2 separate regions of the Homo sapiens genome follow, and region 1 is linked to region 2. The links come from fine-mapping of genetic effects on plasma protein levels. Region 2 holds a variant in brackets. A gene starts in the other region. All regions are shown on their forward strands.

The links. A credible set is the group of variants that fine-mapping cannot tell apart. PIP is the posterior inclusion probability: the model's chance that the variant is causal. The UK Biobank Pharma Proteomics Project read protein levels with antibody pairs (Olink). The fine-mapping took linkage between variants from a reference panel, not from the people measured, so its PIPs are less certain.
Region 1: it holds the start of DRAXIN, and the variant in region 2 is the best candidate, but not a certain one, in a credible set for the plasma level of the DRAXIN protein (UK Biobank, PIP 0.59).

The regions. Positions count from the first base shown.
Region 1 is chr1:11,690,098-11,692,999 of GRCh38, forward strand. DRAXIN (dorsal inhibitory axon guidance protein) reads left to right here and starts at 1,613. Exons shown (of 7, transcript NM_198545.4): 1 at 1,613-1,756. It also overlaps a transcript of MAD2L2 not described here. RefSeq lists enhancers at 1-420, 421-928.
Region 2 is chr7:55,978,022-55,980,915 of GRCh38, forward strand. It overlaps NIPSNAP2 (nipsnap homolog 2), which reads left to right. Exons shown (of 10, transcript NM_001483.3): 2 at 105-244; 3 at 329-374. Among named protein-coding and RNA genes, the nearest start is that of NIPSNAP2, 15 kb to the left of the region's middle. The variant C/T (reference allele first, on the strand shown) is at 1,858.

The sequences.
Region 1 (2,902 bases), not on the chromosome of region 2:
TAATGTGCTTTACTTTTCTTCATAGCACTAATCACCACCTGACATCATTTATATTTATTTGTTCACTTATCTTCTGTCTCCTTCACTAGAATCTGAGCTCCATGGGGGCAGGGATTCTTGTCCATGTTGTTTACTACTGTACCTCCGGTGCCGGCACATAGTAGGTGTTCAATAGGTATTTATGGGATGGATGACTCAAACCTTTCAGTGAATAAACAGTTCAGTGTTCTCATCAATCCATCCTGGTGCCCACCAAGCTAATAATATCACGGTAACAATGGCAGCTAATTTTACAGGAGCATTTCCTATGGGCCAGACCTTAGAAACGTTATCTCCTTACACAGGGCACTGCATTCACGCCTAGAACACTGAAATTTAGGTATAATCATGAGCTCAGAGGTCAGGCGACTTGCTCGAGGTCATAGGGGACGGCATCAGAAGAGGAACACAGACATTTAGCCTGACGGCAGAACTGTGTTCTAAAACCTCAAAGTCATAATTTGCCACACGCTGGAGAAAGAAAACAGTCGAAATGGAAGCCACCTGGCGAGCTCAGGGCGCCAGGTGGGAGCGCTGCTTCCCACATATGGGAGTCCGGCCCCATCGCTCTTTGATCTTTGCAGCGTCCGTGGCCCCACCGACCCCGTCGTGAGTTATGGGAGGCACGGGACCCATAACCCAGCATTCTCAGACTCCCAGGGTCGTCAGGACACGGCGCCCCGCGCGGTGATGGATGAGCCGGCCCCAGCGCTGGCTTTGTCCGGGTTGGGCCGGTCTGAGAAGCTTCAGGCCGGCTTTGGACGGGGCGTGGCGAGAGCCGCGCCGCGTGTGAGTGTGTGTGTGTGTGTGTTTGTGTGTGTGTGTATTGGGGCGGTTGTCTTTCTCCCTTCCCTACCGGGAAAGAGGGCACAGGTGCGCCGTCAGCGCCCCAGGTGAGCTGGTAGCACTTTGAAGACCCTTTGTACCCCTACATCCAGGAGCGACCTCTCGGAGAACCCCGCCTGCCCACTCTGCGCACTTTCTGCGGCTACAAAGGCCCCGCCGTTCCCCGTCCCGCCTCCCCCGCCCTGGGCATTTCTTCCGTCCCTTTTGACAGTCTAGGCGGAATAATCCTTTTGTGGCCCCGGGCCCCTGCCCTGACAGACGCGGCCGCAGCTGAGCGCGCAGCCTCGCTCCATTGTTGGGGTCCACCGAGGACCGCCCGCCGCGGCCCTTTGTCGCCCGCCCTGCGCGGGGCCGCTCCAGAGGCGCCACAACTGCCGGAGCCCCTCCCGTCCCACGCGCCCTGGGCCGCGCCGAGGCGGCTCTTACGCACCGGGAGGAGTGGGCCTGCCTCGCCCGGTGCCCGCACGGCTGCTGGGCTGCGCCCGCCTTTGTCTGCCTCCTTTGTCTGCCCCGCGCCCTCGCGGCGGCGGCGCCTAGGCCTCTGGGGAGCTGGCCCAGAACTCAGAGCGCAGCTGGCGAGGGCGCGCTGGCCGGGTGCGCGCCGGGCCCGGCCCCGGGGCTGCCCCTCGGCTGGGGGCAGTCGAGCCCGCCACCCGCCGCCCCTCCTCTGTCCCCTCCCCGCGCTCCCGCCCCCTTCCCTCCTGCCCGCCCACTCCCCCTTCCTTCCAGTCCCGCTCAGCCCGGGCACATCCTCCGGCTGCCCGCGCACCTCTCCACGCCGGCCCCGTTCCGCGGCTCGCCCTCGGCTGCGCTCGGCTCCCGCGGGCGCTCGGCCCCGAGCCCCTCCTCCCCCTACCCGCCGGCCGGACAGGTAAGGCACGGCCTCGGCCCGCCCCTGGCTCCGCCCCTCCCGCCCCACCTGGCTGCGAGCCCGGACAAAGGTGGGCTACCTGGCGCGCCCAGGGGCGGGGTGCGCGGGGTCCCGAGGCTGGAAGTGAGGATGCTGCCTCCTTCCCAGCCCTCGGACCCGTCTATCCGCCAGTCCTTCCGCCGCCTCCTCTCCTCGCCGCGTCTGCCCACGGACCCTGGCTCTGCTCCCGGGCTCCCCATCCGTCCACCTACCGCTGGACGCCCACTTTTCCACGCTCTGACACTCGGCCTCGCGCGCGCCCTCGCCGCCCTCTGGGGTCCCGGCTCGCACCTACTCTCCTCGGCACTAGCCTTCTCTCTCCCTGACCCAGTCTCCCTTTGTCTCTCTGTCTCTGAGTCTCCGGGTGGTCTCTCAGGCAGGGGGCCCCAGTCCGCCACCGTTGGAAGAAGTCTTCGAAGACTCCCTGAGCCCCGGGCAGAGCTGGCGGGCGTGCCCTCCAGCCCCTTTCGAGGCCGCCCAGGAGGCTGGGGTGTGTGGCCGGGGTCGCTGAGTGCGCCCGGAACCAGCACCGCCGGTGGCCCCGCGCCGTCCCATCTGTGCCCAGGAAGGTACTCAGCCTGGCTCCCCCGACGGCGCTGGTCTTTCGCCTGTGGTCTCCCGCTCTGTCCCTCCTGCTCCCCACCGCCGGCTTTTGGCTTTTCTCCGTCCGCTCGTCAAGGGTCTCAGCCGCCTTCGGGGCCGGGGTATGAGATGAGAGAGGGCTGGGGTTTCCCGCCAAGTCTTTCTTGCTTTCCTCAGCTGGGTGCTCCCTGGGCCATCCTCTCCGCCCGGTGGTCTCCCCTGCCCTATATGCTCCCTCCACGCTGCCCACCTCCCAGCCCAGTGACACACTGGTGTCTGGAACCGGTTCAGTACTATGCATCTGGAGTCGGGTACACTGGGGCTCTGGGAGTGATCTCGGACAAAGGAATGCACCTCTCTGAGCCTCAGTGTTCCTGTCACAAAACAGGGATGGTGCTAGTCCCTACCTATAGGGATGTGTGTGGAAATTGTGGGGTGCCGCTTGGTGCTGGTTCACACACCCTGTGGAGGAAGGGAGGGGAGGGGAGGGGAGTCTACAGACCTGGGATGGGGTGGGGACAGGGG
Region 2 (2,894 bases):
GTTCTGGAACGGTGCCTAGAATAGCTGCTCACTGTGTTTGCCAGATTAACTGATGGATATATGAAAACAGTATACTGCGTGACAACACCTTTGTTATTCCATAGGACATGGACATCTTCCAGCAACAGATCTCGAGAAGACAGCTGGCTAAAATCCTTATTTGTCCGGAAAGTTGATCCAAGAAAAGATGCCCACTCCAATCTCCTAGCCAAAAAGGAAACAAGCAATCTATACAAATTACAGTGTGAGTGACAGGTTTGCTATCTTCATAGTTGACTTTTTTTCCCCTTTGTTCCTAAGTTTATCGTTGAATTTTCTTTTGTTTCAGTTCACAATGTTAAACCGGAATGCCTAGAAGCATACAACAAAATTTGGTGTGTATACCAAACTATCCTTTACTTGGGGAAAAATAATGACTTTATTTGTTAGTTAATTCCACTAACACTTGATAGCATAGAGAGAGATCTTTCATCCCTCTCTTTTGAAGCTGAACATTCAGAGGCTCTTAAACTGAGCTTCATGTGGGATTGCCGAAGGCGTTTTGATTTTAAGCACTCACACAGCTAAATCATCATATAGGCTATCAGACTTTAGAATGTTACCAGACTCTTGTGTTTGGAGGAACTTTGCCAGGCTGTCTAGTCCATCTACTTATCCAGTGCTGGAGTCCTTTCCACAGACCTTCCTGACTGCCTGTCCTGAAGTAAGTTCCATCTCTGGACAGCTCTGAGTGTTAGGAATAAGAATTCACATCTCTGAGTCCTTCATTGATTCCCCTAAGTAAAACTGCCCTGTGAGAGTCCTGTATGTATTTGAACATAGCTGCCATTTCTTCCCAACTCCTCTGTTCTCCAGGATCCAAGTCCCTTCCGCTGATTCTCCTATGATTTGCGATCTAAACCTGCTTACAGAATTTGTAAACTTTAAGACGAAAGGGGAGAACTAAGCTTACCAGCTTTTAAGTTAACAGAAATAGTATTTTAATGACCCATGGTGAGCAAATGTGAAGAAAAAGGTTTTTAGTTTTGTTTTGTTTTTACCTTTAATATCTACTACGTTCTTAAGAAAGCAAACAATTTTGTCCCTATAATCAGCATACTTTTTAGAAGAAAAACCTTTTGTTTTTTATTGTTTTGTTTTTGAAGATAGCTTATGAAATGTAACAATAGCATTGAATTTCTTGCTCATTCCAGCACATTTCTCTTTATTAAAAAATGCCCTTAAAACAAAGCAGATGTTTATTTCTAAGTCTTTTCTCATAAAAATGGAATTTTTCCCTATGCCGATGTTGTCCTGGATTACCTTTTTTGTCCTGTCTTATCACTTCGTCTCCTGTCTCGGGTTTCTGGCTGTCTGTTCCTATTTCTATTTGATGTTGTGCTCTCACTTCACACCCAGCATGTAGAATCACCTTGCTCTTCCAACTTCCCTGTCTGTGCCACTCACCTTGTTTTACTCAGCCCGTTCCTTAGTTCTCTGTGGTGAATCTGTCACCTAAGCTGTGCATTCTTCATCGGACATGTATTTTGGTTCTCTTGTTTCCTTCTCCATCTCTCTCTCCAAGCCTCTCGAGCCCCATTCCCAAGTAGCTTTTTTTCTGACTACCTTTCTGGGCTCCAAGCTATACCTGTGTCTCCTTCCTGCCCTGCAATACATTACCCCAAAGTTTGTCAGATTGATCTGCTTGAGTTCTGTTTTCTTTTTTCATCACGTTTTTTCTTTTCTCTGAAACTTTCAGCAGCTCCCTGTTTGCAGAACATAAAGACTTAACTCCTGCCTGGTTTTTAGGGGTCCCAATAATGGGATTCTGCCCAACCCATCCAGTTCTGGGTACAAGTACTGCCTGCCTTACAATCT[C/T]CATTCAGGTAAGGCCAGGGCTCCTAAGAGCAGGTTTGGGGTCCCCAGCAAAGAGGAGTGGCTACAAATCCATGCGTGACTTTGTGTTGGTGAAAAACCTGGGCCCCGTTGCCAGGCCCCTTTCTGGACCCCACCTGAATCATGTGTACTGGGCTTCCTCCTGGGCACTGCCTCCAATGCAGGGTTGTCTATTCCTGCTCATGTCATGCGACGAAAAGGAAATGTTGGACATACATTTCCCTAGCAGAATCCCTCTTTCCCTGTCCTCGATTTTCATTGATCCCATGTTATTTCTGAACATTCATGAGTCACGCATCAGATACATTTAATATCAGATCCTAATTTAAAAAGTAAATGCTACTCTTCCAAAAGTACACATGATGTGGTCACTATACTGGGTCATAAAGATGTATGGGTTTTCAGTTAGTTAGACTTAGACCGTTTTGGAACTTTTCTCTGTTAACCATTTATGTATCCCTGGTCGTATGGAGCTCCAGTGGTGCAGTCGGTTAGCACATGGTACTTACATACCCTTGGTCCTGTAGCCCCAGCATCTGGTGGTGATCACTAGCTAAATATCAGAGTCAGCAAATAGTGTGAACAGGTTCCATTTCTTGCCCTTGATCCCCTTTTGCATCCATTGTTGAATCTGTATGATACTTTTTCATCATAATTTTTCTATTCAAAAAGTGTGCAGGTTTTAGCTTTTCTCTTGGTGTAAAACAGTTACACTCTTCCCTTTGCCTTTCCCTGTACATTAGAATCTATACCATAGGAAAGCTTCCATGGAACCAAGCTCCACTCTGACACCCCTGTTAAATTCATACACTGCCGTGACCTGTCATGGCTTTGTCCCTGTCCCTGCACAATGCGCGGGAATGAATTGGTTGGTGTGTTCGGTGCGAGACTACGTGACACCCCTCCCATCCCCTTGGCCCATTGAATTGAGTAGAACATAATTTATGCTTCGCATTGTATCTTTAATTTTTATTCTTCTGCCATGTTGATGCCCTTGGGGAGTATTGGAGGTTGGAGTC